2 linked regions of the Homo sapiens genome follow. The protein of the gene in region 1 purifies or fractionates together with the protein of each later gene. This does not show direct contact. Each region holds a gene or a part of one and is shown on either strand. Other genes may lie near its edges.

What was found. Proteins that work in one complex are often made in the same cells at the same time.
Region 2: the proteins of MTSS1 (region 1) and RAB5A purify together in Homo sapiens (affinity purification with western blotting, with the first as the bait; 2 studies listed by BioGRID). This does not show direct contact.

Annotation. Positions count from the first base shown.
Region 1 is NC_000008.11:124,563,485-124,569,202, reverse strand, and holds part of MTSS1 (protein MTSS 1), read left to right. Parts: intron 1-288; exon of another isoform or gene 289-320; intron 321-666; coding exon 667-824; intron 825-2,024; coding exon 2,025-2,132; intron 2,133-3,443; coding exon 3,444-3,541; intron 3,542-5,718. UniProt on the Homo sapiens protein: May be related to cancer progression or tumor metastasis in a variety of organ sites, most likely through an interaction with the actin cytoskeleton.
Region 2 is NC_000003.12:19,980,489-19,985,096, forward strand, and holds part of RAB5A (ras-related protein Rab-5A), read left to right. Parts: intron 1-3,219; coding exon 3,220-3,335; 3' UTR 3,336-4,608. UniProt on the Homo sapiens protein: The small GTPases Rab are key regulators of intracellular membrane trafficking, from the formation of transport vesicles to their fusion with membranes.

The sequences.
Region 1 (5,718 bases):
TGGGCCAGGCTCCGCATAGACCCCACTTTCAGTTTTTCATCATCAGAGACCTGTCTGGAGGTCTTGTTATTACTGGGCTTGTTCTACAGCAAGAGCATTCAAGACTCTCCACTAGAGAGTCAAAGGAACTGCCAAGGATTCCCATGGGCCCCCAGAGCCAGGAGAGCGGATGCTTGCCACCTTTGTCTTTAGGAGCAGATCCTTCTATCCAGACAGAGGCTCTTTGATTGAGATTGACCCAACAAAGCCAGCCCGTGCCCGTTTTTGGAAACACCCACAGGCTCTTACCTTGTTTCCACATCTCTTAGCCTCTTCAGAATGTTCTGCAAGGAAAGAATGCTGTCTGGCTCTGTGTTCCAGGGTTGTGTTGGCAGAAGAGTTGGTGGGGGTTGTGCAGTGTGAGAAGGCAAGTCATGAAGAGTTGCCCCAGGACATTTTCCTTGTCAGGAATAAGCCAGGCTAAATGTGCCCTTTGGGCATTGAAAATTGGAAATGGCTGGTCCTAGAAAAACAGCTGCCTTAAATCCTTTTGGGGCATGAATAAATACTTTTTTTACATCCTGGAAAATTGTGGTTTTGACTCCAGCAAGGACCCCAGGGAGGAGGGGCACTTGTTCCAGAAGCTGGTATTTCAGCAAGCCGTGCTTGGGTCTCTGTTTTTTGCAGGGAGAGGTGATATCCAGCCTCAGTTGGACAGTGCTCTCCAAGATGTCAATGATAAGTATCTCTTATTGGAAGAAACAGAAAAGCAGGCTGTCCGGAAGGCTTTGATTGAAGAACGTGGCCGATTCTGTACCTTCATCTCTATGCTGCGGCCAGTGATTGTAAGTTAATGGAAAACTCCAGAAGGTTTAAACTGCTGGTGTAGAGGTGGCTTCCTTCTAATTTTATCCATCCACTGTTGAGTCATGGAGAATCTACTGTCAGGAATCATGATGGTGGTATCTCCTGTACAGACCAGCGATTCAGTGCAAGTTGATGGCCATGTAGCTCACTCCTCATTCACTGTTCTAGTACCACTTGTTCCCCGTTACTTTGTCTCACCAAGTCAAGAAGGCCCAGCAGGGTGGTTCTCAAAGTGAGGTCCCCAGGTCAGCAGCATCACGTGGGAACTGGCTAGAAATGCAAGTTCTTGGGCCCAACCCAGACCCACCAAGTCCAAACCTCTGGGGGTGGGGACCCAGTCGTCTGTGTTTTAAAGGAGCACTCCAGGTGGTTTTGAGACTCACTGTTGTAGCCGAGTACTAAGGGGTGACCATGAGATGAATATCCAAGAGCCTCAATGAATCAATTTAGACTTAATTTTTAAGGAAATCATTTGCATGCCGTAATTGAGAACTTGCACTGCAGGCGTTCTGGAAGCTGATTCGAAGGTACCAGCTCATTTCCCTTAGCCCTAGCAAAATGTCTGAATTTGAGTTGTTCCCCTGAGCACAGAACTTTTCCATGGATCGTTCTAGCCCGGCCCGTGGTCCCAACTTGGCACTTCGATAAAGCACATGGGATGTTTCTTCCATGGTCCCCAGCTCCTGTCTTACTTGTCTTTTACTAAGTTGCTGGAAAAGCACAAGAAAGAAGGGGAAAAGTTAGCTTCTGTTGAACACACAGGCACTGTCACAAAGATCTGGACCAAAATATATCCAAGTCGTGTCATCCATTGAAGCTAAGCAACTTCAGAAAAGGGCCACAGTATGAAGAGGGCTGTGCTGCAGGATCCCGTGGGAACACACAGTCAGACCATCTGAGCAGGCCTGGCAGTCCCCCAGGCCCTGGGAGGGAGGCCTGTGTGTTCCCCACTGTCCCCTGTGCACAGGTCACTCCTCCATTATGGCAGATTTCTTTTTCCATCTCATTTCCCAAAAGAAAAGGCATGTAGTGCCTTCAGCAAAGATTTGCCAGTCCCAACAGTGCCTTTTCTGAAAAACTGAAAGGGTTATACAGAGACCCTAATGAAAACAATTGGACTAGAGCGATGAAGGGAATCACTCATGATAATAACATTTCATGAATGACTTTTCCTTCAGGAAGAAGAAATCTCAATGCTAGGGGAAATAACCCACCTTCAGACCATCTCGGAAGATCTAAAAAGCCTGACCATGGACCCTCACAAACTGCCCTCCTCAAGTGAACAGGTAGGCTTCAGGGGTTAAGCACTTACAGGATCAAACCAAAGAGGTAAAAGCTCAAGGCCCTGAGTGTTCCTGTGGCATGTGTCACGTCTTAAATTGTAGTCATATTCACCACGTCCTTCATGATGTAATATATGAAATCACCACAGCGAGCTGTTACATAGAACCTATTGTGTGTCAGGCACTGTCCCAAGCTCTTTACATAGCCTGACTTCCTCCATTCATCTTCATGATTATGCTTGTTTTATAGAGAATGATGCAGAGGCACTGAGAGATGGAGTCACTTAGCCAGGTTCAGCTAGCTAGCAGGTAGTGGAACTGATATTTGAACCAAGTTGGTCAGGTTCCAGATCCCATGCACTTAATTGCTGTGTTCATCTGCCCTCTAGAAGTCAACCCTCCTAAGAACACGTCGCTGGTGTGTTTTGATTGACACTGTCAACCATTCTCCATTTCTCCCATTCTAATTGAGCAATGCATGGAGAGCTCTCTCATCTTATGAAAAAGATGACATTTTTATGCTTTATTCATTTAATTCACATCACACGCACACTATGGGAAGAGACATATTTGGGGGAACTGATGAATCACATGCTGGCTTTTGTGCTTGGTAACAATCTTTTCGTCTCCTTGGAGAGCTGGCTCAGAGGGCAAATTTGGGAGCTCATGTTTTCTATTCTATCAAATTATATTTATTAGACCAGAGCATGCATGCATTCACTTGACAAATAAACATTTACTGAGTGCTTCTTATGTGAATGAAAGGTGGACCTTATACTCATGTGGTCCTTTGTCAAGCAACGGAGACAGATATAGAAATAATGGTGAAAGAATTGGCTTGTTCTTGATTCTGTCAGGCTTTAAAATTTCTAGTGCTGGTCAAATAGGGCAGAAATGACCACTGAATATCAAGTGGTTAAAATGCGCTACCAACAAGTCTGGGAACCATGATTAACTTTATGGCATTACAAGAGGAAAATCCTGTAAATTCTAGCCTTGGGTATAAATGGCTGTTATAAATTATTAATTGGTCACTGTATTTCTCCCTCTCTCGACTGATATTTCATGATTTTCCTTTTCCCTTCCTTTCCTTCTCCCTATTAATTATAGTTTTACTTTCTCAGTAAAAGGATTATGATATTGATGGATTTGGTACTGTGGCTCTTCAATTTAAAAAAAATTTTTTTAACATGTTTTGCTTTCATTCCCACCCCCACGATGGCAGCGTTTTGATGCTTTGGTGGATGTTAAGCTTTGATGGCTAACGCTTCCCCTCTCAGCACCTCATTCACCCAGCTGGCTCTGTCCCCTTAGGTGATTCTGGACTTGAAAGGTTCTGATTACAGCTGGTCGTATCAGACGCCACCCTCTTCCCCCAGCACCACCATGTCCAGAAAGTCCAGTGTCTGCAGGTGAGTGAAGCCGGGGTCCACTCTTGCTTTCAGGACGGGTCATTTTTCTTTATGCTAATGTGAGCAATGGAGCCAGTCCTTATCTCTTAGAATGGCTCATTCTCAAACAGGAAATGGGATGATGAGCTGAAAGAATGGTAATAATTTTGGTCTTGCTCTTTAGTCTCTGGATTAATTTTGGATCAGAAAGAAAACCCCATTAGCCCTTGACTTGTGGATGTAGCTTATTCTCTCTCACTTGTATGTTGTAGGGATTTTCCTATTCTATGAGATCACATTTGATTTTCCTGTTTAGCAGAGTGAAAACCTTCTAAGGCCTAAAAAATGGTGAACCTGGGTTGATTTTTACACAGGCTGATCTCACTGTTGCCAGAACAAACGAAGGAAGTAACAATGGCTTATGCCCTCATTTCACCCCATATTTTTGTTTCAGGGTTTCATAAAGTAAATAGAGTTCTTGCTCTGTCAGTCACTGCTACTACTACCACCACTACCACGACCACACCTGTATTAATTAGTACTGTTCCCTATTGGAACAAAATCTGTTGGAATAGTTCTGCCATCTGCAAAACTGTTGTCTAGCAATTTTCTGTTAGAAGTCAGTTCTTGGCTTGCCGAGTAGGAAAGTTTCTTTTCCTCTCCTTGAAAGATGGAAGCATGATGTACCATCTATCTCTCTTGGTATAGTAGTCCTGTTACTCTTTTAATTTAACTTTCAAAGCCAAATGAGTTTCCACTTCCTGTGTATTAGCACTGAGAGTAGAGGGCAGGATGTATCTGCTCAATCTGTCTGTGGTGATGTTTTGGTGCACGCTGATGCCTATTTCCTTTCACTGCGGAGCTTGTACACTACACACTTAGCAGGAAGTTCAGACCTAAGACGCTGCATCCTGGACATTCTGCCCCCTGAAGATATTGGTTTGTTTCTTATCTTCTGTCGACTGTGTGTGTGTGTGTGTGTGTGTGTGTGAGTGAAAGAGAGACCTTTTTATTGTTGCCAAGAAAAATCTCTCATTAGTGTAAAACAAAGTTGCGTGGCTGTTTTTTTCTTCCTTATAATTTTAGTTTGAGTAGAAAACCATGTTGCACTGACATCTGCAACTCTGAGGCTGCCGGGGTGGAGTTGCTGTGAGCTTTACTGTCGGTCCCCAACTGCCGCCTTCTGGCTGACTGGAGGGGAAAGTCAAAAATCATGATATTTATTCCTCACTGCAGCGATTTCCTCCAGCACGCTCCCCTATGTCTGTCTGAACATTTGCACCAAGTAATTCTAGTGTAGAACAGTCACGCGGCCCTTGAGTACCTTATTAGCTGCCAGATTTTGCAAGCCAGAGTCTCTTGCAGGCTTAGGAGCAGAAACCATGACTTTTCCTATCCCAGCCCTAGTTATTTACTTCATCCCTGCTGCTGCCTCTACAACTGCTCTTTTTATTTCAGCTCCGTTTGTTTGGACCATGGGAGTCTGTTTTCTGCTTTTTATGATCTAAGTTACTATACAGAGTGTGGAGCATTTTTTTTTTTTTTTTTTTTTTGAGATCGGGTCTCGTTCTGTTGTCCAGGTGGAGTGCAGTGGCATAATCTCAGCTCGCTGCAACTTCTGCCTCCTGGGTTCAAGTGATTCTCCTGCCTTGGCCTCCCAAGTAGCTGCGATTATAGGTGCCTGCCACCATGCCTGGCTAAGTTTTGTATTTTTATCAGAGGCGGGGTTTCACCGTATTGGCCAGGCTAGTCTTGAACTCCTGACTTCAGGTGATCCACCCGCTTTGGCCTTCTGAAGTGTTGGGATTACAGGCGTAAGCCACCGCACCTGGCCAGGAGCATGTTTCTTTTGAGTGGAGATGGAAGGCAGACAGAAATCCAGAGCGGGTGTGTCATTATTTGACATCCTGTTTACTGTGCCATTTCAAGAGCAAACAGCTGAGCATTGATTGCCCTTAGTCGCTGAAAGCTGCCTGCCTCTTGCCAAGTGTGCTATTGTGCCAGACCCACAGATATTTTAACACAGAAACAGCTGGGGTCAGAGTAAAAACATTAATTAAAGCATCACTTTGTTAAAAGGTAAAACATATGCACACCAACATAGTGAGTTGATTTGCTGATGTTCTTGACAGCGGGCTTGACCAGACTCAGCTAGGATGAAATCACCTCAGCAAATCCATCGGCAGTGCTTAGCTGGG
Region 2 (4,608 bases), on another chromosome or scaffold:
GATTAGTAACTTAAATCACACAGTGCACTCATAACAACTCTAATCAATGCAAGGACTAAAAAGTTACTCGTTCTAGTTTACCTCCTTCATCCTCTTAATCTCACTCACCTCTGATTTAAACACTTAGGGAACATGCTAAAGGGATACATGATTGATTACTCAATCTGGAACCTAAGTTGTTATTATATACAATATATAGTGCTATTTTGTGTCCCAGGTACCAGTGTTCAACATTTCTGGGGCTTTGCTTGTAAATACATTTGACTGGAGATTTACCATTATAATGCTATTTATGCTACCAGCCCAGAGCCAGTCCCAGAGAAGTGGCCCAATTGAAGGCTTTCTTTCCAAACTTCAGTGCTCCTGGCTCCCAAATCCATTGCCCAACCCAGCATCTAGGATTCTAAAAATGATTGATGCTGATGTAGAATGGAATGTGTAGAACAAATAAAGGATAAAAGGTTCACAATGCAACTAGGCAATCCGATCTCAAAGCAGAGTGTATTCAATTTCTGAGTAACCTGAGTCAAAGCTATGGTAAAGTTAGAGTCTTACCATAGTGGTCTGTCCCCAAGATTGATAGAGATCAGTGTGTGCAGCCACTCTTAAAATCAGTACTCTTAGTCATCTTTAATATTCTGCCTCCCCTCAAAAAATGAATTTAGCACATCAAGGATCTTATGTATTAAAACAAACTACAGCAATCTCCAACTTTACAGTGGTTTGACTTACGATTTTATAACTCGATGGGGTGAAAGTGATATGCATTTAGTACATTCTTAACTTACTACGGGATTACATACAGAAACCCATCATAAATTAAAAATATCATAAATCAGGCTGGGCGCAGTGGCTCACTACCTGTAATCCCAGCACTTTGGGAGGCCAAGGCGGGCTATCACCTGAGGTCAGGAGTTGGTCAGGAAACAAGCCGGGCCAACATGTCGAAACCCCGTCTCTACTAAAAATAGAAAAATTAGCTGGGTGTGGTGGTATGTGCCTGTAGTCCCAGCTACTTGGGAGGCTGAGGCAGGGGAATTGCTTGAACCCAGGAGGCAGAGGTTGTAGCGAGCTGAGATCGTGCCACTGCACTCCAGCCTGGGTGACAGAGCGAGACTCCGCCTCAAAAAAAAAAAAATCATAAATCAAAAACATACAACTTAGGATGGATATATCAGGATGTAGCCCCATTGTAAGTCAAGGAGCATCTGTATATCCAGCAGGTAAGTTTTTTTAATCAGTGGGAAGCACACTCCAGAGAACAGCCACTAGCTGTATAGAGCTTGGCAGAGGTAAAGCCGTAACTGCTGGTTGAGAGTGTTGTCTGAATTTGACAAGCCACACTCATCGGACTCAAATAAAATTAAGAAATAGTTTTTGGAGATGAGGTCTTCAGGATAATTCTATCTGGATTAGGTACAGCTACTGGTCAGTCAGATTAGGATTCATCAGCCCATAAAAGGAGAAAATGAGGTTGGTTGAGGTGGCTCACTCCTATAATCCCAATACTTTGAGAGGCCACGGTGGGATGATCTTCAAGGCCAGGAGTTCTAGACCAGCCTGGGCAACAGAGCAAGACCCTATCTCTACCAAAAAAAAAAAGCCAGGCATGGTGGTGCACACCCTGTAGTCTCAGCTACTTGGAAAGCTGAGGTGGGAGGATCTTTTGAGCCCAGGAGTTCAAGGCTGCAGTGAGCTATGATTGATGCACCACACTCTAACTTGGGCTACAGAGGGAGACCTTGTCTCCAAAATGAAAAGAAGTATGGCTGCAGGCTACATTCAAACTAAGATCACAACGAAGTGTTGAGTATGTATAAATGTATGTGGATATGTTTGTGTCTAAGTGTATTTCCACTAGCATGCTAAGGTATGTTTGTGTGTGAGTATGTTTCCTCCAGTATGCTAAGTTTTGACACATGCAGGCATCTAACTTGGGTGTTATCTGTCCTTCCTTTGCCCAAAGCATAGATTATAATTGTTCATTCTCAAAAATGCAACTCTTATCTATTTCCCCTTTATTTGAAGGCAGCTGATGGTTACTCTGCAAGGTGTAAGTTTCTCTTTTAAAAACTAAGCGGTCGAGCATGGTGGCTCATGCTTGCAGTCCCAGCACGTGGGAGTCTGAGGCGGAAGAGTTGCTTGAGCCCAAGAGTTCAAGACCAGCCTAGGCAACAAAGTGAGACCCCATCTCACTTTGGAACTCAGGACTGCAGTAAGCCATGATCATACCACTGCACTTAATCCTGGGTGACAGAGTGAGACCTTGTCTCTTAAAAAAAAAAAAAAAGAGAGCATGTATATAGATGTTTTAAGGCCAAAGGCTGTGGAAGCCAGGAAGGAAATAGTAGATATGATCTATCACAATTCGGGGTGATAATTAGTTGCACAGTAGAGGACAAGTTTTGTTGGGGTGATGATTGCAAAGGTATTTGTATCCTGACTTGTTCTAAAAAATGTTTGTGGCAGTCTAGAGAACGCTGATATGAGCTGAGCTTCTTTATAAACTTACTGGCTGGCCATCATCTTTATTGACTTAGATTTTATTTAATAGAAGTAATAATGAGGCCAGGTGCCATGGCTCACGCCTATAATCCCAACACTTTGGGAGGCTGAAGCAGGTGGATCACCTGAGGTCAGGAGTTCAAGATCAGCCTGGGCAACATGGTGAAACCCCGTCTCTACTAAAAAACAAAAATTAGCTGGGTGTGGTGGGGCATGCCTGTAATTCCAGCTACTCGAGAGGCCAAGGCACGAGAATCACTTGAACCCAGGAGGTGGAGGTTGCAGTGAACTGAGATCACGCCATTGCACTCCAGCCTAGGTGAGCCTGGGTGACAGAGTGAGACTACATCTCAAAAAAAAAAAAAAAAAAGAAGTAATAATGAGTATAAAATAAAATAGAACTTTTCTGGTATTATTGAGTGAATCGGTATAGAGAATTACATAAAGCACTAGTTAGGCTTAAGTTTTAATTGTATCTACAACCAGTCCCCATCTACCGTTCCCCCAACACAATTACCCCAGAAATCAAACTCCCTAAGACAGCAACCAATATTTTGGCATTCAATACTCAGTAAACATTTGAAAAGAATGAACATATGGTTATATGATACTTTGGGGGTAACCTAACTGGAAAGAAAAATTATAGATAAGCAGGTGAAACTGATATTAATATGAGTATTCAAATATTCTATTTATTTGATCATTTTCTTTCAGCTAAAAAATTGCCAAAGAATGAACCACAAAATCCAGGAGCAAATTCTGCCAGAGGAAGAGGAGTAGACCTTACCGAACCCACACAACCAACCAGGAATCAGTGTTGTAGTAACTAAACCTCTAGTTTGAACTAGCTGGAATAGTCTTCTGCTTCCTAAATGTTAATAACAATGGAATTGGAGCATTTAACCAGCCCAGTATGACTTCCAAAAGAAGAGACTTATGATAGAGTCAAGTTTCTAATACAGAATTATTTTAAGTGTTTTGAACTTAATTTTTAATAACATGCATGGGTCCCTCTCACTAATGTTTCAACAATAGGGAAAAATGAGAACTATGTGGACACTTGTTTCATTGGAAGGTTAGGGGGAATAATTTCTCATCACTAGGAATATAGACAAATGACTGTCTGGGCCCACACAGTTAACCAGCCCATTTCTCCACACTGGTACAGTAGTCACCTGTGAAAAAAAAATTGGAACTTACTAATTTGGGCTTTTCAAAAACATTCTTTGTTTAGAAGGAGATTCTAAAGTTATTTATGATGCTTAGCCATAGTATTCAGGCAAATGTTCATTTCTCCTGGTACCTGTATTTAAAATGTACATTCCACATTTTAATAAATTAACCACAAGAAAATAATCCCACATATACAAGGTCAGGGGTGGGGAAGAGTATTAATGGTATCTTAATTATACCCAGTCTGGTTTTTTTTTTTTAAATGGGGTAAAAATCAAATGCAACCCCATCTTGTTTTAGGAATTTTGAGAACTAATAAATGCACCTTAATGGTCAGTGTTCCTTTCAAACATGTGAGTTCTTTAACAAAAATGAAATAAACCAGGTGTCTGTGATTTCTAATTAATCACCGCTGGCCATTACACAGGTTTTGTTGTTTGGGGTGGGGAGGGGGCTTTTGTTCCCTTTTGACATAATATAGTCAATGCACTAACAATTATGTATATTCAAACTTGATTATTTTAAATTCGATCTTCAGCTGTACTGTAAATAGGGTACTGCATTGTAGTCTCCATATCTGTATTACTTTTCTGTAATATTTAAGAGTTGCTTAAAAGCATACAAAATGTACTGTTACTAAAACAGCTAATTATTTCTCTCTCCCCCTTTGACAGGAAGGGGCTTCAGTTGTTCCTCCATGGCTAGAACCATAATAAACAATGTACCCGTAATTTGTAACATAAAGTATTGCAATATGTTAGTAACAATCTTGCAGCCTTCCTTTCCAAAGTTCATTTTATTTTGATCAGTTCAGTATATTGCACTAATTATTTTAGGTATTTTCATTATATGAAAGCTACCATGTGTCAGAGATGATTTAATCTATTTAAGTGTTGGACTGCTAGGAGAACTTGTACATTTATGATAATG